Homo sapiens: one gene and its partners. The protein of the gene in region 7 purifies or fractionates together with the protein of the main gene of each other region. This does not show direct contact. Each region holds a gene or a part of one and is shown on either strand. Other genes may lie near its edges. The genes, in order: ACOT9, MEIOC, SDF4, LRBA, DSC2, MYEF2 and SLC20A2.

What was found.
Region 1: the proteins of SLC20A2 (region 7) and ACOT9 purify together in Homo sapiens (affinity purification with mass spectrometry; one large-scale study listed by BioGRID and IntAct). This does not show direct contact.
Region 2: the proteins of SLC20A2 (region 7) and MEIOC purify together in Homo sapiens (affinity purification with mass spectrometry; one large-scale study listed by BioGRID and IntAct). This does not show direct contact.
Region 3: the proteins of SLC20A2 (region 7) and SDF4 purify together in Homo sapiens (affinity purification with mass spectrometry; one large-scale study listed by BioGRID and IntAct). This does not show direct contact.
Region 4: the proteins of SLC20A2 (region 7) and LRBA purify together in Homo sapiens (affinity purification with mass spectrometry; one large-scale study listed by BioGRID and IntAct). This does not show direct contact.
Region 5: the proteins of SLC20A2 (region 7) and DSC2 purify together in Homo sapiens (affinity purification with mass spectrometry; one large-scale study listed by BioGRID and IntAct). This does not show direct contact.
Region 6: the proteins of SLC20A2 (region 7) and MYEF2 purify together in Homo sapiens (affinity purification with mass spectrometry; one large-scale study listed by BioGRID and IntAct). This does not show direct contact.

What each region holds. Positions count from the first base shown.
Region 1 is NC_000023.11:23,700,555-23,702,915, forward strand, and holds the end of ACOT9 (acyl-coenzyme A thioesterase 9, mitochondrial isoform a precursor), read right to left. Parts: 3' UTR 501-2,361; downstream 1-500. UniProt on the Homo sapiens protein: Mitochondrial acyl-CoA thioesterase. Catalyzes the hydrolysis of acyl-CoAs into free fatty acids and coenzyme A (CoA), regulating their respective intracellular levels. Regulates both mitochondrial lipid and amino acid metabolism.
Region 2 is NC_000017.11:44,662,533-44,667,268, reverse strand, and holds part of MEIOC (meiosis-specific coiled-coil domain-containing protein MEIOC), read right to left. Parts: intron 1,886-4,736; coding exon 1,781-1,885; intron 894-1,780; coding exon 1-893. UniProt on the Homo sapiens protein: Is required for meiosis completion in both male and female germ cells. Confers stability to numerous meiotic mRNAs in gonads allowing proper initiation and progression into meiosis prophase I.
Region 3 is NC_000001.11:1,224,723-1,229,458, forward strand, and holds part of SDF4 (45 kDa calcium-binding protein isoform 2 precursor), read right to left. Parts: intron 4,225-4,736; 5' UTR 4,072-4,224; coding exon of another isoform or gene 4,051-4,071; coding exon 3,746-4,050; intron 1-3,745. UniProt on the Homo sapiens protein: May regulate calcium-dependent activities in the endoplasmic reticulum lumen or post-ER compartment. Isoform 5 may be involved in the exocytosis of zymogens by pancreatic acini.
Region 4 is NC_000004.12:150,843,680-150,848,415, forward strand, and holds part of LRBA (lipopolysaccharide-responsive and beige-like anchor protein), read right to left. Parts: intron 1,101-4,736; coding exon 979-1,100; intron 529-978; coding exon 421-528; intron 1-420. UniProt on the Homo sapiens protein: Involved in coupling signal transduction and vesicle trafficking to enable polarized secretion and/or membrane deposition of immune effector molecules. Involved in phagophore growth during mitophagy by regulating ATG9A trafficking to mitochondria.
Region 5 is NC_000018.10:31,092,349-31,097,084, forward strand, and holds part of DSC2 (desmocollin-2 isoform Dsc2a preproprotein), read right to left. Parts: intron 1,296-4,736; coding exon 1,211-1,295; intron 1-1,210. UniProt on the Homo sapiens protein: A component of desmosome cell-cell junctions which are required for positive regulation of cellular adhesion.
Region 6 is NC_000015.10:48,153,108-48,157,843, forward strand, and holds part of MYEF2 (myelin expression factor 2), read right to left. Parts: coding exon of another isoform or gene 4,673-4,736; exon of another isoform or gene 4,020-4,672; intron 787-4,019; coding exon 685-786; exon of another isoform or gene 1-684. UniProt on the Homo sapiens protein: Transcriptional repressor of the myelin basic protein gene (MBP). Binds to the proximal MB1 element 5'-TTGTCC-3' of the MBP promoter. Its binding to MB1 and function are inhibited by PURA.
Region 7 is NC_000008.11:42,417,976-42,421,839, reverse strand, and holds part of SLC20A2 (sodium-dependent phosphate transporter 2), read left to right. Parts: intron 1-3,864. UniProt on the Homo sapiens protein: Sodium-phosphate symporter which preferentially transports the monovalent form of phosphate with a stoichiometry of two sodium ions per phosphate ion.

The DNA of each region.
Region 1 (2,361 bases), on a different chromosome or scaffold from region 7:
CAGCCGAGAGCTTTCTTGTTTTGCTTACTAAACTTTTGCTCCAACCTCACCCTTGTGTTCGTGCTCTGTGACACAAAGAACTCCGGATACTATCTCAGACAACCAAAGACTGCTACATTTTGGCGCACTGGTGAGACTACAACACCTTGCTAATTTTTGTATTTTTGTAGAAACAGGTTTTCACCGTGTTGCCCAGGCTGGTCTTGAACTCCTGACCTCAAGCAATCTGCCTTGGCCTCCCAAAGTGCTGGGATTACAGGTGTGAGCCACCACATCCAGCAGAAGGTCATTCTTCACCTATCAAAATGGCAAAGATATTTTAAAAAGAAAAGATAAAAATTGGCAAAGTTCAGGGAAATTGCTGATGTGTAAGTGATTGTGTGAAACTGTTCTGAAGGGTTACATGAAATACATATTCAAAGCCTTCAACGTGTGCCTACTATTTGACCTAAATATCTCATTTAATATTTTTCCAAAGAAAATAATTTAAGGGTCAAATGTTTTAGAGTATTTAGGATATTTACTGCAACATTGTTTATAATAGCAAAAAAGAAATACTAGAAAAAGCTTCACTGTACAGCAACAAATGGTTAAATATATAATGTATAATCTATACAATAGCATGCAGTAGGTCTCTTAACTCCACTTAACACATTCACAAAACTCCCCAGGGCGCATCCCTCCCCATTAGCCACCTCCCATCATGTCATAGGTAGATATGCAAAATGCTATATTGAAGGGCCAGGTAAATCTCAGTCAGGATGGCATTACGGCATGGAGAGACAAGTTATTATAGTACAGCACATGCTTGATTCCATGAGTCAAACTGCATGCTTCCAAGAGATAGTTGTGTTCGCTCCTGTGACTATTTCATGCCAGAGGTGCTTGTTGACACTGTGATTTCAATAAACATTACATAAACTAATATAAAAAAATTGCTTGAGACAGGGTCTTGCTGTCACCCAGACTGGAGTGCAGTGGCATGATCATAGCTCACTGCAGACTCAAACTCCTGGACTCAAGCAATCCACTCACCTCAGCCTCCTAACTGGGACTACAGGTGCACACCACCATGCTCAGATAATTTTTTAACTTTTTGTAGAGAAAGGGTCTCACTATGTTTCCCAGGCTGGTCTCAAGCGATCCTCCCATCTCAGTCTCCCAAAGTGCTGGGATTACAGGCATGAGCCACCACTGTGCCTGGCCTAAAAATTTTTTGTTAAAAATGCTTTCCACCGGCCGGGTGCAGTGGCTCATGCCTATAATCCCAGCACTTTGGGAGGCCAAGGTAGGTGGATCACCTGAGGTCAGGAATTTGAGACCAGCTGGCCAACATGGTGAAACCGCCTTTCTACTAAAAATACAAAAACTAGCCAGGCATGGGGGCTGACACCTGTAATCCTAGCTACTCAGGAGGCTGAGGCAGGAGAATCGCTTGAACCCGGGAGGTAGAGGTTGCAGTGAGCCAAGATCATGCCACTGCACTCCAGCTGGAGCGACAGAGTGAAACTCTGTCTCACACACACACACACACACAAAAATACTTTCCACCTAATTCTGAGGCAGAGCCAAGTTTGTGAACACTAATGTAGAACCCACAATAAATATTGCTTCCTTCTTGGGAGGACTTTTTTCAGAGATTATTTTTTCTTCTAAGTTACCTTCCTGTCAAAAAAGGAACGGTCTTGGCTACAGATTTTTTTTTTTTTTTTTTTTTGAGATGGAGTCTCGTTCTGTCACCCAGGCTGGAGTGCAGTGGCATGATCACAGCTCACTGCAACCTCTGCCTCCCAGGTTCAAGCAGTTCTCTGCCTCAGCCTCCCGAGTAGCTGGGATTACAGGCGTCCGCCACCACGCCCGGCTAATTTTTGTATTTTTAGTAGAAACGGGGTTTCACCATCTCGGCCAGGCTGGTCTTGAACTCCTGACCTCATGATCCATCCGCCTTGGCCTCCCAAAGTGCTGGGATTACAGGCATGAGCTACCGCGCCCGGCCTTGGCTGCAGATTAACGGGAATACCTCCCTTGGGCTTCCTAGGTGACACTGTGATATTCGGTATGACCTCCCTTGCTCTATTCCTTGGAAGAAGTACAGGCACTGGTCAAGAGTGCCCGGGACCCACATTGCCTGGTTTTGAATCCCAGCACCTCCACATGTTACGCGTCGGACCTCCAGGAAGTTACTTAAACTCTCTGTGCTTCAGTTTCCCGAGTGGCCTAACCCTAAGGGGGGTTACAGAACCTGCCTCATAGTGTTGATTGGAAGAAATAAAGGAGCTCAGACCTGCCAAGGGCTGAGGATGGTGCCTATCTAGCACATGGCAATGCTCCATAAGCATAAGCAGCTATTATTATTGTGGT
Region 2 (4,736 bases), on a different chromosome or scaffold from region 7:
CAGAATGTGGGGGATCAGGTTTAGCAAACTGTTGCTTTTCTGTGACGTTAGCAAAATCATTAGCGGGACAAGCTGTGTGAGGTTTTAGTCCATATTCTGATGTTAAGCCAAAATCAGCAGTGAATACTGCTTCCTTTGCAAACTGTTTCTCTGTCAGATGTGGCGTAGTTTTTGGAAATGTGAAATTCTGCTGATCAGGGATTGTCTCCTCCATTTTTTTCTGATTCGCTGGCTTAACCTGAAATAACTTTGTGTAGGTGTCTGCTTCTACAGTTGGTGTTTCAGGTGTGCCATTGGCTAATTTTTTGCTATCTTGGACACTAAAATTTGAACATTTATTAAGCTTAGCCTTATTAGGATGAACATACTCTGGGTATCTACAATAATCTACATTTTCATTGTATCTATTAAATTGAGAAAGAAACATCTCTGCCCTTTTTTGCTGTAGTGGTGCTTCAAGACCTTTAGTACATATTCTGTCTCTTCCATAATGGTAGATATCAACTCCTGATTCTTTCATGATATCAGACAGACCAGTTTGGGGTGTAAAACAGTTTTTGATAAGTGGATATTCTTGGAATGTTGTCTTAGCTGTATCATTTGTCTGAATATTGTGACAGTTAGAATGATCACTTCGTGAGGGGTACATCCATTGTTCTTCAAGATCTAAACCAGTAAATCCATGATGAAGTTCATCTATTTTTTGTTGTGGTGTGAGATTACTGTTACGCAGGTATTGCTTTTCCATTGCTGACACAGATTCATCACTATAAAAAGCTTGCTGAGAGATGACTGTATCTATTGGCCTTTTGGTTTCTGTTAAGAGGTCATGGTGATCTGCAAATCTGCTTGTGTTCATTGGCCAAACTGACTTTAAATTGGAGGAGCAGGTCCTAGAACAAATAAATATATTTAATTACAACTTAGGTTTTAAAGACTTTATTTCTTCAGTGGAAAAGGGAGAAAAGGTCTTCAAAAACATTTATCTTGCCCCATGTCACCATTCTCTAATCCCTTTCAACTCTGCTTTATAAGCTACCATTAGCTCCAGATAATTATCTGTCACATGAAATGTGCTGTATGTTACATAAATATGCATTTTAATGTCTTCGCTGTACTTTCCCAAGAGACAATAACTAAGGCCTAATATGTGACTTCATGGTCTTAGATGAATTATTTATCTATAGTAAGCAGAAAATAAGTTTTTCCTTTGCTTAGGTTATTACATAAAAGCATTGTTGACCACAGTTTTTTTTAATGAAAAAAATGTGTTTTGCTTAAACTTTGTGAAATTAAAATATTTTAATTGGTTATATGTGTGCTACATACTTCCCTATTTATGAAATAGTATATTTGGGTAATATAGCTTCCACACTTCAATAAAACAATTGAAACATTACAAAATTTTCTAACACATGAATAAAATCCATATGTATTTCTGCATAGTAGTAATGAGTTTTATTCTTTGGGATCTATGTATAAAAGTTCCTTTGAATTTATATTATTTAAGCCAATCTTTAGTTCATGAACTCAAGGGAAATAGCTCTGAATTATGCAAGAATAATTTTTCAATGAAAGTCCTTATACAAAACCTTAGACTGAACTTCCAATTATATAGCAAATACTTCAGCAAAATCAAGTCTCCTTGAAACAATATTTGAATTAAGATACCTACTGTCAGATGATCCACTATTAAGTAAAAATAAAAGTTAATAAACAGGGTAAACTAGTGTATGTTAGTTTAAAAGCCTGTTATATACTATATAGATTATATACTAACCCTTCAGCAAAATATGGCTGTGACTTATCTTGTTCTTCCAAAATGTTAGACACAAGTCCATATAAGTCTGTTTCACTGCCATAGTCATTTCTTTCTGTTTGAATCCTAAAAATAAATGAATTCGTGCTGAAATACAATATATTGATTACTCTTTCCAGACTTATCCTACCTTACCATCTTTATCTATAAAATATGTGGACTGAATCTACACCATCATTTCAAATAAAGAAGAGACTAGAACTCAAGAATATTTTCTTTTCTACATAAATATTTTTATGTGGAAATGTCTTTTCCACATAAATATTTCTCCTTCATTTCAAATCCTATATCTAACTTACAGTGCATGCTTACCTCTTATTTCTCCACAACACATGGTTTTCATTTTAGGTGACCAAGATATAAATCTGTCATCTATGATGTCACAGACATGCTTGGTATCATAGCTGCTCCTGAAAGCAAGTCTTGTCTTATTATACATTATTCCATCAACACCTGCTCAGCTTCCTCATTTGCAATTTGAAAACCATATGAACCTGATGCTCTATTCTATTTTTGTGACTCTATATTAATATTGGATAAAAAAGTGAAATGCGATATGGTCATCCTAGACACCACAGCAATTTTGCAGTTGTCGCTTAAATGTAACAGATTTGGGAGCCATCCCTAATGCTTGCAAAGCATGACTGGATGGAGTTCCTTTTATCCCAGAAATCCACCTAGTGACTGATACTGACTAAATACAAAATGTAAAAACCACAAGCACGTGGAAGATTGGTACCTTTTACCTGTTACAGTTTTTGGGTAATTTCTTCCTTGAAGTAATACAGGTTGAGTATTCCTTATCCAAAATGCTTGGGATCAGAGGTGTTTTGGATTTCAGGTTTTTTTCTTGGATTCTGGAAATATACATTATACTCCAAATATATAATGTATACTTGTATATTTGGTTGAACGTCCCTAATCCAAAATCTGAAATGCTCCAATGAGCATTTGTTTTGAGCATCATGTCAGCACTCAAAAAGTTTTGGATTTTGGATCAGTCTGGATTTCGGATTTTCAGATTGGGATGCTCAACCTGTACATCTATTTGTTGGTTTGTTTGTTTATTTATTTATTTATTTATTTTTGAGATGGAGTCTCGCTCTGTTCCCCAGGCTGCAGTGCAATGGCGCGATCTCTGCTCACTGCAACCTTCGCCTCCCAGGTTCAAGCGGTTCTCCTGCCTCAGCCTCCCAAGTAGCTGGGACTACAGGCGCGTGCCACCACGCCTGGCTAATTTTTTTTTGTATTTTCAGCCTGACCATGTTGGTCAGGCTGGTCTCGAACTCCTGACCTTGTGATCTGCCCACCTCAGCTTCCCAAAGTGCTGGGATTACAGGCGTGAGCCACCAATCCCGGCCCTGTACATTGTTTTATAATAAATTGTAACTTCCGGTTTTTTCATATTTCAACATTTCATAGTGTTGGGATATTTTTGAAATAAAATACCTTATATTTGCATAACACTCATATTTAATTGATCTTCATAACATTGGAAAGGTAAGCATTAGTAATCATTCGTTATTATCTGTTGAATAAATGAATGATCATTTGAGATATTAAGAAACTTGTATTTTGCAAGGGTATATGACTTGCCAAACTACTACATACTTGCTAAATAGTCTCCCTGTAAGTCCAATACCTTTTCTACTACATGTGTTATCTCATAAAAGTTCAATATAAAAGCTTTTTTGTGTAATTATGTATTAGTATATATCTAAAAAAAATTCAATGTAATATATACCAAACTGCTAGCAGCTGTTATTGGGTGGCGGGGGGAGAAGGTTAAGACAGACTTTCACTTTTCTTGATATATATTTCTGAAAAGTTTGAATTTTTTCACTTGATCTTAGCCAAAAGCGAGAATAGGCTTGAATTTTTTCAATAGCATGTATCAACTTTAAAAATATTTTTGTTTTTTGTAGAATTATGTATTACGTAGACTTTCTAATAAAATTATTTTAGAGAATTTGCCAAGAATTTTAATTTTTTAACACTTTTCTAATAAATACAAATAACTATTTCCTGGTTAGACTAATGAGGCATCAGCCTCTATAAATAGCTCCCATATATAATTAAAGATAGATGTCACTCCCTTAGGGCTCCTCTTTGCAATAGGCTCCCATAATATCCTAGTTATCGTCATCATCATCATCATCATCATCATCATCATCATCATCAAGATTATAAAGGCAAGGATAATATTTGCCATGTTTAAATTCTGGTATCCCCCATAGAAAAGCATCTGATGTACAGGGGGCCCTTATTATTTGTGGAATTGAACAGAAAAATAATTTAAAATATCTTATGTTTGATAAAACCCTGTTTGTTGTAGAGTTGTGAAGGAAAAAAATGGAAAATTTAGAACTGGATGACAAAAACATCTAAAAGTTTTAACTCATTCATATAAGTCATCTTTAGAAAGAAGAACTTAAGATTTATGCACTAAATGTTCCCACTAATGAATTTTTTTAAGTAATAACCTAGCTGGGCAGAGGCTCATGTCTGTAATTCCAGCACTTTGGGAGGCCAAGGTGGGAGGATGGTTTGAGGCCAGGAGTTCAAGACCAGCCTAGGCAACAAAGTGAGACCTCGTTTCTTAAAAAGAAAAGGCAACAAATTTTTTTAAAGTTAGCTGACCACCGTGGTGCATACCTGTAGTCCCAGCTACTGTGGAGGCTGAGGCAGGAGTATGGCTTGAGCCCAGGAGTTCAAAGTTGTAGTGAGCCATGATCTCGCCACTGCACTCCAGACTGGGTGACAGAGCGAGACCCTGTCTCAACAAAACAAAACAAAGCAAAACACCGTAAAAACTATACACAAATAACTGCCCAGTTTACACTTTCCTAAAAGTTTGAAAAACACAAAATGCCACAATAGTAAAATGATAATGTAGGGAACAGAGAGCAAATAACCT
Region 3 (4,736 bases), on a different chromosome or scaffold from region 7:
CAACATAGGGAGACCCCACCTCTACAAAAACAATTACGAAAATTCGCCAGGCGCGGTGGCGTGCACCTGTGGTTTCAGCTACTCAAGAGGCTGAGGTGGGAGGCCTCCCGAACCTGGAATGCGAAGGTTGCAGTGAACTGTGATCACACCACTGCACTCCAGCCTGGGCGGCATACCGAGACCCTGACTCAAAACAAGACAAAACAAAATCCTTCATATAAATTTAAGTTGTGAGATTTAGGAAGAAGACCGTGTGGGGACTTAACATTGTGTGCAAGGATGGAAGAGACCACAGACTTGGGGGATAGGGACACAGACTGGGGACACGGGGCCAGCGCAGGCCAGGTCAGGAGGCCACAGGCCCCAGGACAGGTCACTCCCGTCCCAGCTTCAGAGCTCGGCTTCACCATTATGTCTTTGTGGAAGCCACAGGCTCCTACCCCTGCTGCAGCCGCCCGTGTCCTGAGCTCACCTGTTGGAAACTTAACCCCCAGGGCAACAGCACTGGGAGGCAGGGCTTCCAGAGGTGCGAGGTCTTGAGACCCCGGCTGGTGCGTTTGCCGGAGGCATCCCCGAGAGTAGGGTGCCCTGGCCCCTTGCCTCTATGCTCCGCTCAGGGGCAGCCGCGGCCACGTTATGAGGTGGCAAGCAGGCCCTCGTCAGGCAGGTGTGGCCTCTGGGACCTGGGCCAGGCAAGCTTCGAGGGTGCACACACCGCAGGCACGGCTCAGAAGCACTGGGCAGAGATCCTCATGGAAGAAGGCCAGGCTGCCGCTCACACGCGCCCCTCCCTCAGCAGCCGCAGCAGCCCAGAGGTGGACGGGCCTGGGAGGCACCCTCAGCTCCACAGTCCCCAAAACACACCGGCTGGGGACGGGGCCACCCGGGTGGCCATGTGGCAGGTGGGGCACCTGGTGGGTCTCACGTGGACACGTGCATCCTCGAATGCTCCGGTCACGCTCCACACGCGCCACAGACACAGGCCACACGCTCCACACGCCACAGACACGGGCCACACACTCCACATGCCACAGACACGGGCCACACACTCCACACGCTCTACACACTCCACAGACACAGACACACACGAGGCAGAGCAAAAAGCAAAAAGGTGGAAAGAAACCACATGGCGCAGGATTCCAGTCAAGATGTCGGCAAGGAGTCACTCATCCAAACTCAGGTGCCTGAAGACACGGCTGCAGGGCGGTGCACGTACATGGAGCTGGCACGCACACACGCAAGTGCACAGGCCGGTACCCACGTGTACACAGCACACACACGTGAACAGGGCTGGCAGAACACAGATGTGACTGGGCTGGTGCACACACGCATGTTATCAAGTTCTGGCTCCTGAGAGAACAAGGGCAAGACGCCCAGTGCCCAGACCCTGGCTTCCAGCTCCAGCCACGGGAGACAGGGCTTCCTGGAAAGGCGGCAGCTATTGCACTGGGGCAGGTGGCACGGAGGCGAGCCCAGAGCATCTCACCGTGCCAGGAAGCGGGAAGGAAAGCCTGGAGCATCTCGTGGTGCAGGGAAGCGGGAAGGAAGTGAAGCTCAAAAGCCCCTAGGACAGGGCACCTCCCCTCTGGATGCTCTTTCCAGAAACCCTCAACCCTGTACGGTCAGGAGGAAACATGGCACCTCCCCTCTGGGGGCTCTTTCCAGAAACCCTCAACCCTGTACGGTCAGGAGAAAACACATCCCACAAGCCCAAACTGAGGGACAGCCTAAAACCTCCTACCCAGCCCTTCTCAGAACTGTTACGTCCTCACAAAAACGGGAGAGTCTGAGACACCGTTCCAGCCCAGAGGAGACAGAGGAGACAGGACAGCTGAGTGAACGTGGGTCCTGGAGGGACGGGGCCCTACGCAGGAGAAGGGCGAGAAGGGACCCGCGTGTGGGAAGGGAAGTCTAAACACCCACAGCGGCCGCTGTCGCCGCTCGGCGCAGGAGTCAGGGAGACCCGGAGACCTGCTGTTACTTCCCACTCCCCATGCCCACCTCCTCAAACGAGACAGCTTGGGGTTTCGTTACAGGCACCAAAAAGAAACCCCGGTCCAGCTGGAGACGCACCGAGCAGAAGCCTCAACTCCCCTCGCCCAGGCGTGCAGCCCACCCCCAGCACCGGCTGAGCAGGGACGGGGACCCTTCCCCTGTGATGCCGCGAGCCAGGCCTTCGTGAGCTCAGGGGTGGTGAACCTGACAGGCCCCAGGGGCACCAGCAGCCTCTTCGTGGGTTGGTCAGCTCACCACCAAGTGAACTCAGGCCACGCAAGGACCCCCGAACCGTACCATCTGAGGAGAGGTGCAAGGGGACACCACACCTGGTGCCCAGGTCCTCCAGCTGGCACCGTGCCTCCGTCCCACCAGCTCACCTGTGCTCCGCCCGAAAGCCTGGATCCTCAGGGCCCTCCCGCCTGGCCCTCAGCCCAAGGGCCGTGGCACAGCCAGACCAGTCCTCACACCTTTCCTACCTGCTCCTGCACCCCAGGACCCCAGCCCTGCCCAATCCCCTTGCTCACCAGCTTTGCCACCTGCCCCTCTGCACTGGTCCTGGAGCACCAGGCCCGGCGGGAAGGCGAGCTCGTGGCCAGGCCCTGCGGGAAGGCGAGCTCGTGGCCAGGCCCGGCGGGAAGGCGAGCTCGTGGCCAGGCCCGGCGGGAAGGCGAGCTCGTGGCCAGGCCCGGCGGGAAGGCGAGCTCGTGGCCAGGCCCTGCGGGAAGGCGAGCTCGTGGCCAGGCCCTGCGGGAAGGTGAGCTCGTGGCCAGGCCCTGCGGCGGGGGCTGCCTCCTTGTGCCCAGGTCTCGCAGGTCCCAGGAGGCCCAGGGTGTTCTCTCACCTGCACCTCGGCTCCCTGCCCGGCACCCTGGCTGGCCTGGGGGACTCACGGGCACGCCCTGACCCTGCTCTGCCTCCAGGGGTGAGGCCAGCGCTGAGTGCAAGTAGGTTCCAGGGCCACACCGCAGGGCACCCCGGCCGTGCCGTAAGGAGTAAGGCGCCCGTGCAGGACCTGGCTCCTTGTGGGTGAGTGGTCAGGTTGACCCATCTTGGACCCCTCACAACAGGCTCTCGAGACTCAGGGATGGGGTCGGGGGAGAAAGCTCGGCACTAGGCACAGAGGCAGCAAGAGGGTCTCGGGACTCAGCAGGGTGGGGGCAGTGACGGCCAAGGATGGGCCACTGACAGCACAGCTCTGCTCCCGACCAGGCCAGCAAAACAAGCCAACCCCACACACCCCCAGCCTGCGTGTGATACGCGGCCCGTGTGTGACAGGGACCCCAAACACACAGGGTAGAGGGCGTGTCAGGAGGAGCCCAGAGCACCCTGTACCAGCTCTCCAGCCACCTGTGGCAGCCCCTCACTCCTCAGCCAGGCCTCGTCCAACTGGGGCTGCAGCCTGCGGAGGCTGCCCGTGGCCGGCGTCTGCCCCTCAGCATGGAGGACGCTGACCACTGCAGTGCCGCGTGGGCTCCTCCAGGCTGTCCTAGGGACGGCCACACAGGCCCACTCTGGCCCTCTGAGCCCCCGGCGGACCCAGGGCATTCAAGGAGCGGCTCTGGGCTGCCAGCGCAGGCCTCCGCGCAAACACAGCAGGCTGGAAGTGGCGCTCATCACCGGCACGTCTTCCCAGCCCGGCAGGTCCCGACACAGGGCCCGGCGCCCCCCACCGCGCAAAGCCAGGATAGGAACACACAGGCGAGCGCACGCGGACAGCCCCCCAGTCTGGGCACATGGCGGCACCTACTTGGAAAAGATGACCATCAGCTTCCTCCGGCTCCGCCGCGGCTCCGCGTCCTCATCAAAGCCACCCAGGTCCTTGCCTAGGAAGACCTCCTGGTGGAAGCCGCGATTGAGGTGCCCGTCCATCTCCAGCTTCACCCCGTTCAGGTGGTCTGGGGGCAGGATCTCATTCTCCTCCCTGTTGGCTACTCTCTCTCGAGTGGACGAGTGGTTGGCAGGCCGTGCAGACGCGTCCATCAGAAGGACTGCCCCCAGGAGCCAGAGGCAGCACGGAGCCAGGCCAATGAGGGGACCCCACCTGGACGCCATCGCCACCCAGGGCCAGACCATGGGGCGGGCTGCAGGGTGTGGGCCAGGTGCTGGGAGGGGCAGGGGCAGGGGCAGAGGAGGAAGTGAGGTCCTGGCTCCAATCCAATCCCCGGGCACCACGGAGGGCTCTGTGTCCCCAGGACGGCCGCAGGATGGGGACAAGCAGCTCACAGTCTGCAGAGAGACACAGACACATCATTAGCAAGACTCAGCAAAGACTTCCCCAAGCACGTCTATCCTGCAACATGAAACATATCCTCGATTCACAGGATCCAGACATGTGGCATCGCCTTCTCCAGACCACACGTGGCACTGCCTTCTCCAGACCACACGTGGCATTGTTTTCTCCGGGCCACACGTGGCATTTGTTTTCTCTGGACCACACGTGGCATTTGTTTTCTCCGGACCACACGTGGTGTTTTTTTCTTTATTTTTAGAAACAGGGTCTTGCTCTGTCACCCAGGCTGGAGTACAGCGGTGACCACAGCTCACCGTGACCACGAACTCCTGGGCTCAGGTGATGCTCTGGGCTCAGGTGATGCTCTCGCCTCAGCCACCGGAGCAGCTGCGACCACAGGCGTGCACCCCCACGCCCAGTAATTTATTTTTATTTTACTCTTTGTAGAGACGGGTCTCGCTGTATTGCTCAGGCTGGTCTCAAACTCCTGGCTTCAAGCGATCCTCTT
Region 4 (4,736 bases), on a different chromosome or scaffold from region 7:
TTTAGAATTAAGACTGCTGGGTTTGAATCCTGATTTTATCATTGTTTATCAACACTAGCTTGGAGATGTTACTCAAGCTTTATGTGCCTTAGATTATTCATCTATAAAATGGAAATTACAATAGTACAGCTCAATAAGTTGTTGGACTTAATTAATACATGTATATCACTTAGACTGCTTACTATGTAATAATGCATTATTCCTTTTAATATCACTATGCTGATCTGCTAGCTCGCTTTATATAAACTATCTTTTCTAATATTCTGTTTCTAAAATCATTGTCAAAAGAAGTCGTTTCTAGACCTTTCTATCTCTGCTCCACTATTTGATATCACAAAGAATTTTTAATCTCAATACATTAGGCCTAAGAGGAAATATGCATCAGTTAAGAGAGTATGTGAAAGACATATTGTAACTTACTATGTCTCTGAAAACAACTGCCCTAAGCCGATTAATATCCATGTCCTGTAGAAGCCTGTCAAGATCTCTTACTGGAGATATACCGCCAGTCACAATGTCCACTGGGCTCTATTTAAGATTAAAAAAAAATTGTATATATATATATTCATATATACATTACACAGATATTCTTTAAAAATAAACACAGTATTCCCAGAACCAGAAAAGCAAAGCTATAGCATTCCTTTCCCCACTTTTTTTGTGTGTATGCTTCCTTCTTCTTTGAGGGGTTGGGGAGAGAGGTGGAGAAAGATGGCATGCAGGAAAAAATGACATATTTGAAGGAAAAGGCATCACAGAAACAATCAAAGTAAACACTGGGAAAAGCAGAGAGGTTTAAATATAAACAAATCTTTATTGTGTATTTAAACACAAATATTTGAATGTTATATGCAGGCCTAAAGTAACTATTTTAATCTCTGCCAGATTTATTTAACTTTATGTTGAAATGAACAAATAAAAATCTTAATTGTAAAATAGGAGTATGCTTTTTGAAAATTAATTAATCTGTATACTTACCTTCGCTGCAGATTTCCCTAAAGGAATAAGGCTATGCATTGGTTTCAAGGCTTTATCTCCCCTAGTTTTCAGTTGTGAATGCTGTTGACACTCCAAGCAATTCCTTACTGCGACTGCACAAACTGTAATTTATTTTAAGGAAAAGATAGGGAAAGAAAAGTTAATATTTAAGATTATGGAAGTGAAAAACATCAACTACACAATATGATTTACATAAGATTTTATTCAAAACAGACGACATTCAGCTTATTCCTAAAATGTCCCTAGACTTTATCGCCTAGTGTTGGTTGTCTGATATTGTTAGCTTCCATGCTGTGGCCCAGTTAAGATTTAGGGAGGCAGTATGGCCTAGTGGTCTAAACGTTTAGGGTTTGCTGAAAGGAAATCAGTTCAGGAATCTTAACAATAGGCTACTATTTCTTAGATCTCAACTAAGCTAGCTGGGACAATCTTTAGTTAAGAAAAGGATAGGGAAGAAAAGAATTGAAAGAAATGGAAGAAAACAGGGAACAAAGTACATTACCATGAACTAGTCGAGGTAACAATCTTCTATTACCATCATTAAAGTAAATTAGTTAAACTGGAAACTTTGATGTTCTTCTTATATTGCATCATTACAGCATGATATTAATTGAGACTAATAGAGGATATAGCTTTTGAAAGAAGCTTTATAGGGTCCAGCATTTACTAGCTTTCATTAAAACTGCTTAGAAAATGGGAGACAGGAAAGGGAATTTGATTAATATACAGTCTAAAATTACCTAAGGCTCCCACGAATCAGGCAGTTAGATTACTTAGAAATTAATTTTGGATTTTAAATGATGAATTACATTATGTACCCTTCACTATGAATTGCTTGATACCATGTAATCATCTAAATTCCCTCCAAATCTGTAGCACTCAAGGTACTTGAACTGAGCAAAGGAGGGAGAGCAAATTAGGAACAAAATAGCAAACTTAAGGGGGGACTTCACAAAGAATCACTGGCCTATCACATGGCTAGCAGGCATGAGAATTTAGAAAGAAAGTGTTCTGAAAGGTGCCCAAAGAGAGCAATAAAAGTTGAAAGAAAGGAAGGAGGGAACAAGAGGAGGGAAGAGAGAATATGGAATACAGCTTTGTCAAATTTGCTATCAGACCCAAGAAATATTTTACTTTATCAAATTTGCTATCAGACCCAGGAAATACTTTTCATACAAACTTTTTCACAAGTTGCATAAAATCAAATTTGAGTCTGTATTACAAAGTTAAAAATCACACCTCATTTCCTGGTTTCAATCAGTTACTCTTACTGCTGTCATCCTAACTTCTAACTCCAACCTCAGGAAACAAGAATGAGGACACCAGTGTCCATCAACAGATAACTAGATAAAGAAACTGTGGTACATATACGCAATGAAATAATATTCAGCCGTAAAAAAGAAAGAAATCATGTCTTTTGCAGCAATATAGATGGAACTGGAGATCATTATCTTAAGTGAAACAAGTCAGACACAGAGAGACAAATATTGTATGTTCTCACTTATAAGTGGGAGCTAAATAGTGTGTACACATGGAAGTAGAGTGCGTAATGATTGAAAATGGAGACTCAGGCCAGCGGTGGGGGCTCACATCTGTAATCCCAGCACTTTGGGAGGCCGAGGCGGGGGGATCACAAGGTCAGGAGATCGAGACCATGCTGGTCAACATGGTGAAACCCCGTCTCTACTAAAAATGCAAAGAATTAGCCGGGTGTGGTGGGGCACACCTGTAGTCCCAGCTACTCAGGAGGCTGAGATAGGGCAATTGCTTGAACCCGGAAGAAAGAGGTTGCAGTGAGCCCAGATCTTGCCACTGCACTCCAGCCTGGCGACAGAGTAAGGCTCCATCTCCAAAAAAAAAAAAAGAAAGAAAATGGAGACTCAGAACTCAGAAGGATGAGGGGGTGAGGGGGGTCTGATGATGAGAAATTATTTAATGGTACAATGTGTGTTATTCATGTGATGAATACCCTAAAAGCTCTAACTTCACCACTAAGCAATCCATGTATGTAACAAAATTGCACTTGTACCCCATAAATTTACACAAATACAATTTAAAAAAAAGATATCACACATTTGGACTGTTACTTTGTTTACCATACTCTATTAAATGATCTTGGACAAGTCATTTTTTAAGTCCCATTTCCATATATAAGAACAGATGGTACTGGGGTGGATTAAATTATCTCTTAATTCTTTTCCGTGGCTATGAAAAACTAGGAACATAGAGTATTTCCCTAGCCTCTGAATCTGATGATTCTTGAGTAAGGCTTTGCTAGTATAGCCTTGCACTTTTACTTCTAGAAATGTACTCTTTCTAGGAAAGTGAAAAGCCTTCGAAAATGGCACACATAAAGCAATAAAGTCTAAATATTTTAATTATAATACTAATAGATTAAAGAAGTATACTACAATAGAAAGAGTAGGAGCACTAGTTAGACAAAAGTATAGTATTCAAATTCTACCTTCACCAATTATAGCTTTTTAGCTATAGATAAGTTTCCCAATTTCTTTTATCTTCAATTTCCTCATGAATAAAAAGAACAAAATTGTCACCGTGAAAATCAACAATGACAAATGACAATAGTCAATAAATGATAACTTTTATTTTGTTATGCTTACAATTAGAATGTCTCTTAAATTTTAAAACAACTGTCTATAAATTGTTATTCCAAGTTACTTAGAATAGCAAGATATACCATTGATTATTAAATATAAAATACTTGGAATTTTACATTTAAACTAATACTATTAAATACTTTGAATAGCATTTTGAGTAAAAATTATACTTGTGGCAAAAAGCACAGGTATACATTAGTTTATGTAACAGACATTCTTGCTAAATATGAAAAAATATGTCATTAACTACATTTTCCACTTCCATGTTATGTTTTCATAGGTGCTTTATCTCTTCATATGACCATGGCTCCTAATGGTTTGCTTCCATTTCTTGTGCCTTCTCTCCTCACCACCTTCTCTTCACTTAATAATCAAATCATTTAACAAAGTCTCGATATTTACAACTATATAGAAGGAAAATTATGCAAAAAAGGGTTTTTTTGTTTTGTTTTTTGCTTCACCTAAGAAGTCCAGTTAACATTAAAAAGTCATTTCATGTATTTTTACTTTTACTTAGGGAAGAAGTGTTTCCAGGAGAAGAACAGAGATTTCATGATTTTATTAACTGCATTAACAAATTACCACAGCTTTTTTGAATAAAGGCTGTACTTGAATGATGCTAGTTTAGAACGTTGTTATTCCAGTGTGTTTGTAAGAAAAGCAGCATCAACATCACCTGGGACTTGGTAGTCAATTTTAGGCCTTACCCTAGACCTCTATAACCCTTTTTTTTTTTGAGACAGAGTCCCGCTCAATTGCCCAGGCTGCAGTGCAGTGGTGTGATCTTGGCTCACTGCAATCTCCAACTTCCAGGTTCAAGCGATTCTGCTGCCTCAGCCTCCCAAGTAGCTGGGATTATAAGCGTGCACCACCACACCTGGTTAATTTTTGTATTTTTAGTAAAGACGGGGTTTCACCATGTTGGCCAGGCTGGTCTTGAACTCCTGACCTCAGGGGATCCACCCACTTTGGCCTCCCAAAGAGCTGGGATTACAGGTGTGAGCCACCACCCCAGCCTAGACCTATATAATCTAATCTGCATTTTAACAAGATCATCAAATTTATGAATCACCTTGTGTTTTTTAATCACCTTAAGTTTATGTATCTCCTTAAAATTTC
Region 5 (4,736 bases), on a different chromosome or scaffold from region 7:
TAGTTTTAACAGTAATGTATGCACGTGGGGAGAGCCAAAAACTTAAAATTCATTATACTGACACTTGTAAATTTTTGAAAGGACACATAAAACTATATGGTGAATTAAGTTGTGCTTAAATACTTACATCACTTCTAATACCTACTTAACATTCTCTTAAAGAAGAGACATTTGCTCTGAAGTAAACATATGTGAGCTCCAGTGTTTGAATCTTTAAACCAAAACCAAAACAATTTTTTTCTTTATCAACAGAAATAAGCTATAGAGTAACACCTAAATACACCTGAAGTTATACAGAATCTAGCAGATGAAAATTGGCATTTGCTAAATGAAAATATTACTAAATTCTTTACATCTATTGCTAAACAGTGATCACATTTTATGCTATCATTGGATTGATCTTTTCTTACAGAATTATGTGAAATAATTTAATTGATAAAAAAATACAATACAGAGTGAAATATTTAAGAATAAAAATCCAAAAACAGTATCTTTAAACTAAAAAAAACAGTTTCAGTACTATTTCTCAATTTTTTAGAGGCATGTTAAATGTCTTTATCTTTTCTCTAAAGTAAATGTTAATAATTATTACTCAAGTGAAATATTTTTATCAACTTCATATAATCATGTTTTCCAAAAATAACAATATTCCTTTCATTAGAATGACACCACAAATATTACAAATGATAATATACTACATTAGTTTTATCTACTGGTCCCAACAGAGTTATCATTCTAAAAATTACACTAATTTTAAAATACCACAGCAAATCAGGATTTATTTTGTATGTGTGTTTTTATTTTAAGTTTCAGGGTACATGTGCAGGATGTGCAGGTTTGTTACATAGGTAAACACATGCCATGTTGGTTTGCTGCACCTATCAACCCATCACCTAGGTATTAAACTCAGCATGCATTAGCTATTTTTCCTGATGCTCTCGCCCTCCCAGAACCCCCAACAAGCCCCACTTGTGTTGTTCCCCACTCTGTGCCTACATGTTCACATTGCTCAGCTCCCACTTATAAGTGAGAACATGCAGTGTTTGATTTTCTATTCCTGTGTTAGTTTGCTGAGAATAATTGCTTCCAGCTCCATCCACATCCCTTCCAAGGGACAAGATCTCGTTCCTTTTTATGGCTGTGTAGTATTCCATGGCGTATATGTACCACAGCAAAACAGGATTTATTACAAATTTTAGGGCTTCCTTACCTCTACCAACAAGTTTCTCGGCATCTAGTTTGGAGGGAACATGTAATGTCACATTTTTGCAGGCATCACTGGCAAATATTAAGATCTAAAAAATGAAAAAAAATCAAATAAATATTATGCATAAAAAGAAAACTTTAATGTGTATATTATTTATATAAATTATAAATTTATAATGATATACACATAAAAAGGCATATAATACTTATATAAATGTTAATTATATTACATATTGACTACACTAAATATTAATTTTAAAATATTTAATTAAATATAAATACATGAATTTATATTTATAATTATATGTGATTTATGTTATTATAAATAAAACATAAATAAAATATTGGAGATAAAATAAAAACATATTGGAGAAAGAAATCAGGACAAAAATATATCAAGGAGAAGAATAAAACAATATACTGAGTTCTAGCTTCCTCCTGCAAAAAGCTTGTAAACTCAAAGAGTTATGTATGCTCTTCAGCTTTGTTTACTATATTGTAAAACGTATGTAATAACTTCACTGATTAACTCAGTGGGTACAGTGACGATCCAACAACAGCCTAGGTGGGAGAGTGCTGAAAACTATCAGGAAGGCAGCACAGGTATATACATAGGAAAGAGAAAACCAAATTTACTGAGGCAGCAAACTGTTTCAGTACATTTTTAATTGCTTATGAGATATGATATCAAATCAATAATATCCTAAACAAAAAGTAAATGCTTTTAAAGACAAACATTAACTTATTGCCATGAAGTGATTTGGAGAATATTTATGTGTTACTCCACACAATAGGCACATAACTTTGAAATATAAAATTATTTTGAAGGTGTATCTTCTCATAAATAAAAGTTAAGTTCATTTTAGAAAATAATTTACTTAAAAATTTTCAATGGTTTAGTGATTCATGGTGAACCAAGTCCAATGCAACATATACGTAAACACACTGAAATTTAATTTTGTTCTGTCTGAAACTTTACAATGGATGTTTCTCAAAGATTCACATTCTTTTTTTCTAGTTTTACAAACATCTTTGACCAAAAGCAAGACAGTTAACTAGCATTTACACTGTTACTTACAAAGTTTATAAATATAAACTAAAATCATCAAAATTTGGATGGAAATGTTTATTTTTAATATATATTAAAGACTTAAATTATCCAGTTTTAATTACATTTGAAGGATCAAATAAGGCAGAGGTTGTGTTTCATTTGGAATGTTGGGATAGACACAATGAAGACATTAGTTTTGAACTGGAAATTAAATGATATGAAGAATTTTCACTGGCTGCATAGCCAAGAGAGAATAGGAGTAGAATCAGATGATTCTGAAGATTCCAGCTCAAGGTGATTGGAAGAATACATTCACTTATTCATTCAACCAACATTTACTGGTTGCTTAGTAGGTGCTAAACGGATTCAATGGCTAGAGCAGTGAACAAAGCCAAGTCCTTGCCTCACGAAGATTACATGATAATAAGAAGCAAAAGAAATACACAAATGCACAAATGTCACATAATGCCAAGGCAGCGAGAGATAAATGTCACGACAAAAATAAAGCAGGGAGAGAGGGTGACAACGAGAATACCTGAGCGTAAATGAAGTGAGGAAGTAAACCAGTTTTCTAACCAGGGAAGAGTCTTCCAGGTAGGGCAAGAACCAGAGTAAAGACCCTGGAAGGAGACTTGTGTATTGCAGAAACAAGGTGGTCATAGCAGCAGAGCACAGCGAGGGAAGAGTGACAGGAGAAGAAAACAAAAGGACAGTCAATGGCAAATGATGTAGGGTCTAAAAGGTCATGGTAAGGAGTGCAGATTTTGTTCTGAGTGCAAAGAGAAGCAACAGCCTGATGAAGAAGCTGTGGAGTGGCGTAAACTGATATTTATACAGAATCACTCTACTAGTTATGTGGAAAATAGGTTATAGAAGAGCAAGAGTGGAAACCAAGAGACTGATTGGGAGACTACAGCAGGAATCTAAGAGTGGGGTAATGGTTACTTGGGCTAAGGTAATAATGTTGGAGAAGATGAAAAATGGTTGGATTAAGACAATTCTTTGAATAACAGTATCTTGGACATCCATCCATTCATGCATGAATTCAACAAATATTTACTGAATGTGTATCATGTACCACACACAGAGCAGTAAACATGATCCTCATGAAACATTCAATCTAAGGTAAGACATATTTGTAATTTCAACAAAGTAAGACAAATGTAATGATAGGGAAGTACAGGGAGCTATGGGAGAGCAGAGGTAATAGTGATATCTAAAAGCCAGGTGAGGTCACCTGAAGAGCGGCTACAAGTGAGACAGGCTAAGAGGAGGCAGAGCTTAAATGCTGCAAACAGAAGAATGGCATATGTGAAGGCCCAGAGATGGCACAGACCTGAAGAAGAAATCTGGAATGGTTGATGTGTGTACCAGAGCGGGGGCAGAGGTATAACATGGGCTCAAAGAAGTGGGTGTGGGCCAGATTTTGAACGGCATTAGCAAAGCACATGGATCTTTTTTCCTAACGAGAATGAGAAACCAAAGATTTACTTGGAGCAAATAAATTAAATAAGCAGCTTTATATTTGAATGTGATAGATCTGTCCAATGTGGAGAATGGAAAAAACTGTCATTTTCAATAATAACAAGCTAGGTAATTAAGAAAAACCTATGCCAAAACTAATTAAAAATCAGGGATAACATTTTTCAAACATCCTAAAGCATCAAAGAGCTAACAAAATAGCAAGCAATTGCTAGGCCAAAACTGAAGATAAAGCTGGAACACACAGTGATAAGAGGAACTCAGGAACAACTTCTGATCTGCAAAGATTTGACTCTGCTTTGCTGGCCTCTGGAGAGAAGGAGAATGAAATCAAAGCACAGGGCCCACCTAAGATCTAAGAGGATCCGCTCCACATTAATCTGGGACCCAAATGCTAAATCTTCATTACAAATTTGAGCCACAAGTAAACTGGCCCTGGCGTGGATCTGTGATCCACACTCACATCTTTTGCTTGGTCCAGAAACTTCAAGCCATGAATTTAACGAAGGCTTGACATGTGATCACCATCATAGATGCTGACAGGCACTTGACCAAATTCAATAACCATTCTTATTTTTTTTAGTCTCAAAAAATAAGAATTGATAAGTACTTTTGCAATGTGATCTTTATAAATTATAACACAACACAAATGGGAAAACACTAGAAGCAATCCAATTAAACTCAGAAACAAGACAGGCTCTCCAAGGTCACTATATGTAGTTTACATTATATTGAAGGTATATTTGCAAGAGAAGGATATTAGATAGGAAGATGTAAAAAAAATCTCTGCATTTGATATGACTGTTTACCTGGAAAACCCAAGCAAATCAACCATTACATTACTATAAAACAAGAAGAGACTTAAGTAAGGAAGCAGAAATAACCATGAAAATATGGTTAGTCTTCATACCCATAAACAAAACCAGTCAGATAATACAAGAAATTTCCACTTTGGGAGGCCGAGGTGGGCAGATCACGAGGTCAGGAGATAGAGACC
Region 6 (4,736 bases), on a different chromosome or scaffold from region 7:
AAAAGATGTGTGGAAAGGTAAAACAATGCCACTCTCCTCACCAATTTCTTTTTTGCATTGAAAAATAGTTTATTTTCTTAAAACTTTTATGTATGTTAACATGTAATGAGTTTATCATTTTTTAATATGTAATTTTTTTAATTTCTAATTTTTCATTTATAATACAGTAAATACTGGTAATTATAACTACATAAACAAAGCATTTTCGGGTTCTCAACAAATTTTAAAATATAAAAGGGTCCTAACACCAAAGTTTAAAAACCAATCTCTAAAAATGAACTGTGAGTTCTTCCAGGTGAGCAGCCAAATAACTACCTGAAAAGCCACCTTCCCAAATGGATAAACAGATTTTAGCTGCCTATGATATGGTAGCATTTCAGCTACTCCATAAATACTGTTCATAGATGATATATTCTCCTTCTGCCTTCAAGACATTTCAAAATCCAAAATGCTAAAAGGCTAGCTACAACATAGCTGGCCCCAAAGAAACCCTCCTGACTTCTGCCTATCTCTTTCATGTTAGCTGTGCTCAAGGTTTCATTCCTTTTTCAGAATGAAGTGACACCGTAAATATCTAACTATTAATTAGAGTCCTTTAAACATTATTACAGACCACATCAATGGAGGCTTTATTAGCTAGCATATGTATCATTTAAAAAGAAAAGAGGAAGTTAGAATACTCACCACCTGGACCTAAATTTCCCATTACTCCACCTATGTTCAACTGGCTGGCACTAATAGGCTGTCCACCCGGACCAAGTCCCATCCCAATGCCTCCAAGACCACCTAAAACAAAAATGAGAACAATCATTACAAAGATCCATATATGATTAACTAATTGGCAATAAAATTTTTTAAAAAGCTATATACCTGTAGTAGTATCTGTAAAATTTCTGCAAATTTTCATATAAAAGCACTGGTTCTTGTTTTTGTCTAGAAAGTAGCACACTGAAGCCCGACTATAAAACCATTTATTAATGAGAAGTGTTTTATGAAATAAAACATGATATAATACAAAGTACACCTTATACCCCACTTAAAGGTACACTGAGAGGAATAATAAAATACCTAGAGGATTTTGAATAATATCATATCACCTTATATATGGCACACATATCTGAAAATGAGTATCTTGCCCAAATTTGTAGACCCACTTAAAATTTGATAATTACTTTTTAAATGGTTCAAATCAAACTAAAAAGTCAATAACCATGAAAGTATAACACTGAATAAGGCAAATATTATATTACCTAGTTTTCTCATTGATATAAATATTTATTTATATTTATATGGCACCTTAAGTGTTTCCACATCTATTGTCCATAGAAGAGGAAATTTTTGAGACCTTAGGTTGCTTGCATAATGACATGTAGCTGATTTTAAGACTTTGGTCTTTGCTGTCAAACTGCACAAACTGCACAGGAAGGACAGATTACTTATAAAGAAAGGACGATTCAACAAATAGCTGACTTAATAGCAACAGTGTAAACATGAAGACTGTAGAATACTTTCAAAGTGCTTAGAGAAAATAATTATCAATCTTTATACAAGTTAAACTATCTTTGAAAACATTTAAAACCCAAAATTGAGAGAATTTACTAATAAAAGATCCTCACTTAAAAGAGCTTCTAACATATATGCTTCAGGGGAAAAAAATTAGTGCCAGAGTCTATAAAAGCAGAGGAGTGATGACACAAGAAAATGGTAAATAACATTGTCTAATTTGCAGGACAGAAAAAAAAATAGTACAGAACTAATAATACAGAACTAAAATGCTGAGCAATGATAGTATAATTCAGTAGGAAAGTGACTGTATCCAAAGGTCACTCTACTATTACATAAAAGAATAATTATATTAACTTCAGGCTTCACAGAAATATTAAAATATCCAGAAGAATCCAAGATAGGAGTAAAATAAGTATTTGTAAGACAAAAAAATAAGACACAATATAATGGAAATTAATCCAAATGAACCAATACATGTGAAGAAATTGAACTCTTCAATTTCATGGTGAAAAAAACTATCAAAGTGATTTTTTTAAAAAGTCTAAGCCCAGCAATAACACCCTTTATAAGGGGCATGCCTGAAACAGTAAAAAAATAGGAAAAATGTACCAGGCAAGTACTAAACAAAATAAAGCTGCTGTACTTACATTAAAATGAGACCAAAGACTCAAAGTAACTACTAGAGAAAAAAAATCACCCAATAAAATTTTTAATTCACTAGGAAAATATATCAATTCTAATCTAGATGCACCTACTAAGCTAGCTTAAAAATATTTAAGTAAAAACAAGAAAAAGTAGACAAATCCACTATTCTATTGGGCAATTTTACCAGACACATAAGATAATAAGATAAACAGTGTTACAGCAGAAAAAGTATTGGATCTAAGACAATTTAAATGATTAGCAAACTTGATTTAATGAACACATATAGATCACTGCACTCACCAACTGTACCCAGAATACTTAAGAAAAATGTGCCATATGGTAGGCCATCCATAAGTCCAAATGAATTCCAAAGAATCACACTCACATATAAACCATGTTCTCTGACCACATTAAAATGAAAAAGTACAAAGGAAAAAAAAAAAAACTCATACATTTGGAAATTGAAAACTTCCATTTTCAAATAATACATGGCTCAATAAGAAATCATAATGGTAATTTTTTTTTTTTTTTTTTGAGACAGAGTCTCCCTCTGTCACCCAGGCTGGAGTGCAGGGGCACGATCTCAGCTCACTGCAACCTCTGCCTCCCAGGTTCAAGCAATTCTCCTGCCCTAGTCTCCTGAGTAACTGGGACTACAGGCATGCGCCACCATGCCTGGCTACTTTTTTTTGTATTTTTAGTAGAGACGGGGTTTCACCATGTTGACCAGGCTGATCTCGAACTCCTGACCTCAAGTGATCCACCTGCCTGGGCCTCCCAAAGTGCTGGGATTACAGGTGTTAGCCACCATGCCCGGCCCATAATGGTAATTTTTAAATACTCTAAAAACTGACCCATCATAAAAATGCTCCATAGCAAAACCCATGTACTAACTTTATAGTCATAAATGCTTATATTAGAAAGGAAAAGCTACCAATTTGAAGTAAGCATTCAACTTAAGGAGTTAGGACAAAAACACACTAAACCCCAATAAATAGAAGGAAAAAATAATAAGGCTAAGTGCAGAAATTAGAAATACAAAACATCCAAATTCAGTTATTTGAATACTCTATTAAAACCGACAAATTTCTAACAAAATTAACCAAGAAAAAAATAAAAATTGCATTCAGAATTTTTAAAACAGAAACATAGATGTAGCAAAAACTTAAGAGATAATTTAAGCCAAAATATTTGAAAATGAACAAAAACAGAAAAAATCCTTAGAAAAATAGAAATTACAAAAATTGACTCAAAAAAAAAAGACAGAAAATATAAACCATCAGTAGTTAAAAACTTCCCAGAAACAACAGAGGAAGGCCAGTTTTACACATAATTTCTAGCAAATATAAAGAGAACATATAATTCTGATAAAAAATAGCAAATACTTTCCAACTTAATACACAATAACTAAAAATTAAAATAACCTAAAAAACAGAAAAATGTATAAAATGTGGTATCAGCAGTTAAAATGAAGAAACTAGAGCTACATCTATCAACATAAATGAATCTCAAAAACAATTTAAAAAAAAAAGCAAGTTACATAATACATTATGATATCACTCAAACAAAATTTTAAATCCAACAAAACAATTCCCTATGTTTATGGATGTACAAATGTGTAGTCAAATTATTAAAACCTAAATGATAAATACTCTATCCATAAGTTGTTTCCTCTGGATAAGGCATAAGTTGAAAGATGGGCAAGGGAGATGGGGAAGCTCCATTTTACCATAAAATTTTATTTATTTTAAAGAAAAAAATCTACAACAAATATGGCATATGATAACTATATGAGTAATTTTACTTTTGTCTGTATATTTAAGATTTCTTATAAGAATACTTTAAAAACCAGAGAAGATGCAGTGAAATAGTAAAAACAATAGCTAATATTTATTGAGTGTTTACATTATGCCAAAATGATTCTAAGTGCTTTACATATATTAATTCATGTAATACTCATGTCAACCCCATGACGTAGACAATATTATTCTCCCCACTTTTCAAAGGAGGCACTGAGACACAGAGGCACTGAGACACATAATACAATAAGTATATTACACTGTTATAGTCATTTTGGAAAACAATTTGATAATACTAACCCATGAGAACTGTAAATCTACTTCAGAATATCTGTCTGAAGGAAGTACTCAAAAACATTACAAAGATTTGTGAACAAAAAGGCATGTGTTACTCTGTGGTTACTCAAAAGAAAAGTTAAAACACCTAAAATACAGAACAGTGAAATAGTTATGGAACATCTATATGATAGACTATTATACTACCAATAAAAATATTTGAAAAGAATCTTCAACATGAAAAAATGCTTATACTCTAATGTTAAACAAAAAATAATTCAAAATTATTTTTGTTCCCAACTATGTAAAAAATATACATAGCAGGCTAGAAGAAAATACACAAAAATGTTATAATGAGGTTACCCACAGATGGTGAAATTACAGAGGACTTTTTTTCCTTCAAGTGTATAAATTTACCAAACATTTTAGAATGTATTGCTGATTAGTCAGGAAAAGTTACCAAAGAGAAAAAAAAAATGGCACGTAACACTTATCTTCTCAGTCTTCCTA
Region 7 (3,864 bases):
GACATTTGATGATATTCAGTATTTCTTTTTTTTTGAGACGGAGTTTCACTCGTTACCCAGGCTGGAGTGCCATAATGGCATGATCTCAGCTCACCACAACCTCCACCTCCCGGGTTCAAGCAATTCTCCTGCCTCAGCCTCCCGAGTAGCTGGGATTACAGGTGTGCAGCACCACACCCAGCTAATTTTGTATTTTTAGTAGAGACGGGGTTTCTCCATGTTGGTCAGGCTGGTCTCGAACTCCTGACCTCAGGTGATCTGCCCGCCTCGGCCTCCCAAAGTGCTGGGATTACAGGCATGAGCCACCGCACCCGGCCGATATTCAGTATTTCTAAAACACTACTAGAGTTCGTAAGAGTGACCAAGTCCAAGGTAAAAATAGAAAAATCCAGCACTTGTTCATCAGCAATAGCCAATTAGAAAATGTAACGGGAGGGAAAAAAACTGCCACCATAATTGCAGCAAAAATAAAAGTTATCTCAGAATAATCCTAATAAGCACTGTGAGTGTCATCAGGCACATGGTGTGTTCTTATAGTCCCAGCTACTCAGGAGGCTGAAGGTACGAGGACAGCCTGAACCCAGGAGTTCAAGACCAGTCTAGGCAACATAGTAAGACCCCATCTCTAAACAACTAAATAAATAATTTTTTAAAAAAGAAATGTGAGTGATATATATGGAAGAGGCACAAAACTGCTCAGAGGTATAAAAAGATAATCTGAATATGAGACGTAATGTGCTATTGGATGGGAAAACCAGATGTTGTAATGAAGTCACTTCTCCCTAAATACAACCTGAACAGGATTTTACTTGGAATTTTACAAAACGAGACTAAAGAATACATTTTGGTGAAATAAATTATCAGCAATATAAAATGATCTAACAAGAAAACTGAAAGGAGGAACTAGCCTTACCTGACGTATAATGTCATATAAGGAAACAAAAGTCAAGAGTAGGTCCTGGGAGGAGGGGCTAGAACTGGGTGTTAGTGTTTTATGGGGCAGTTTCCCCGTGGGATGATGAAAAAGTTCTGGAGACAGATTGTGGTGATGGTTTGCAAAACAATGTGATTGTACTTAATGCCTCTAAATGGTATGCTGAAAAATTACTAAAACTGTAAGTTTTATGTTATGTATATCTTACCACAATAATTTTTAAAAGTAGATACCTGGATAAGAACAGAGTAGATAGCAATGGATGGAACCTGTTCTATATGAGCATGTATTTTGAAAAAGGGAAAATTTAACCAGTAAGTGTTTGAAAGGTTGAATAGCTGACTGTCAGTCTAGAAAAACAAAATTAGACCACTCTCAAAATACATGAACATAAATCTGATGGCTTAAATAATATTTTAAAAATATTCTTAAATTTAGAGTAAAATGGAATTTTATTTTAGAAAAATAAAATGGAATTAAATATTTATCAAATATTCAAGCCAAGGATAAATCACAGAAGAAAATTATAGCATATTTTATTGCATGAAGTTAGAAACTTGAAAGTGAAACAAAGCAAAATACTACCTTAAGAAAATGTGTATTCGATATCACAGAGTTAATATTATTCAGTGAAGACTACACATAAATAAATAAGGAACACATTAGATTTTAGTATGTAAATGGACAAAATACATGAAGAGACAATTTTTTTTTTTTTTTGAGACGGAGTTTTACTCTGTCACCCAGGCTGGAGTGCAGTGGTGCCATCTCGGCTCACTGCAACCTCCACCTCCCCAGTTCAAGCGATTCTCCTGCCTCAGCCACCCAAGTAGCTGGGACTACAGGTGTGCACCACCACGCCTAGCTAATTTTTTGTATTTTTAGTAGAGATGGGGTTTCACCCTGTTAGCCAGCATGGTCTTGATCTCCTGACCTTGTATCCGCCCGCCTTGGCCTCCCAAAGTGCTGGGATTACAAGCATGAGCCACTGCACCTGGCCGACAATTTGTATATGTGAAAGCTAGAGAGAGTGAAATTCAGTAAATATATTTTTTAAAGTTCAGCCTTAATTGTAATTAAAGATACGCAAATTAAAACAGCAACAGTGCATCTTTTTGTCGGTTAATTAGCCAAAAAAAGAGCAACTTACATGATATCATGTGCTGATATTCACAGATTATGGATGACACTACATTAACAGCTATTTATAAAACTATTTGTCATTATGTATTAAGGTCCTAAAACACGTTGGGAGAGGAAAGAGCTCTTCCTTGAAGTAGAACTCCATGTGAGAAATTGCAATGGACTTTGGTAAATCACCATTTTATTTTATTTATTTTTTATTTTATTTTTTTTTGAGACTGAGTCTCATTCTGTTGTCCAGGCTGGAGTGCAGTATCGCGATCTTGGCTCACTGCAACCTCCACCTCCCAGGTTCAAGTGAGTAGCTGGGATTCCAGGTATGCACCACCACACCTGGCTAATTTTTTTTATTTTTAGTAGAGACAGGGTTTCACCATGTTGGTCAGGCTGGTCTCGAACTCCTGACCTCAGGTGATCCACCCGCCTCGGCCTCCTGAAGTGCTGAGATTACAGGCGTGAGCCACCATGCCCGGCCTGGTAAATCACCATTTTATAGCCATCGTCATAAACATTGGATTGTGAAATCTTTAGCAGAAGGGGAAAGTGAGGTTTGATAAGATGCAGGATATTTTAATCATATTAAAAAGTCTCTTCACAGATTGTGGCAAATGTCAAAAAATAGTGAATTGGGTAAAGAGAAAACAGGAGTTCTTGCAGCTTTTCTCTAAGTTTTGAATTATTTCAAGATACATTTTAAATGTTCCCTGTTAACTACAGTCGATTTCAGGGAATTTTTTTTTTTTTTTTTTTTTTTGAGACAGAGTCTCTCTCTGTCGCCCAGGTTGGAGTGCAGTGGCATGATCTCCGCTCACTGCAAGCTCAATGCAAGCTCCGCCTCCCAGGTTCACGCCATTCTCCCGCCTCAGCCTCCCAAGTAGCTGGGACTACAGGCGCCTGCCACCACGCCTGGCTAATTTTTGGTATTCTTAGTAGAGACGGGGTTTCACCGTGTTAGCCAGGATGGTCTCCATCTCCTGACCTCGTGATCCGCCCACCTCAGCCTCCCAAAGTGCTGGGATTACAGGCGGAAGCCACCGCGCACGGCCGGGAATATTATTTTTAAAGCCAAAATCCAACCTGGGCACAGTGGCTCACGCCTGTAATCCCAGCACTTTGGGAGGCTGAGGCGGGCCGATCACTTGAGGCCAGGAGTTTGAGACCAGCCTGACCAACATGGCGAAACCCCATCTCTACTAAAAAATATGAAAATTAGCTGGATGTGGTGGTGCTTGCCTGTAATCCCACCTACTCAGGAGGCTGAGACAGGAGAATCGCTTGAACCTGGGAGACATAGCTTGCAGTGAGCTGAGATTGCACCACTGTACTCCAGCACTTTGGGAGGCCAAGGAGGGAGGGTCACTTGAGGTGAGGAGTTCCACATCAGCGTGGCCAACATGGTGAAACCCCGTCTCTACTAAAAATATGAAAATTAGCCAAGGGTGATGGCATGCGCCTGTAATCTCAGCTGCTCAGGAGGCTGAGGCAGGAGAATTGCTTGAACCTGGGAGATGGAGGTTGCAGTAAGCTGAGATCACACCACTGCACTCCAGCCTGGGTGAAGAGTGAGACTGTCTCAAAACAACTATATAAAACAACTATATAAAGAGCTATATGCTGAAGAGAAGAATCCCCAAACAATTCTACCTAAAATCTAAGCTATTTTAAAAGCTTTAACAAATGTAGGGGACTGGGTAATGTTGTACTAGAGCTTGTTTCTGAGATTAGCCCATGTACATTGGTAGAGTGTAGCCTTTGTGGCTCACCTGTTTTTACTTTGCAATGTCTGC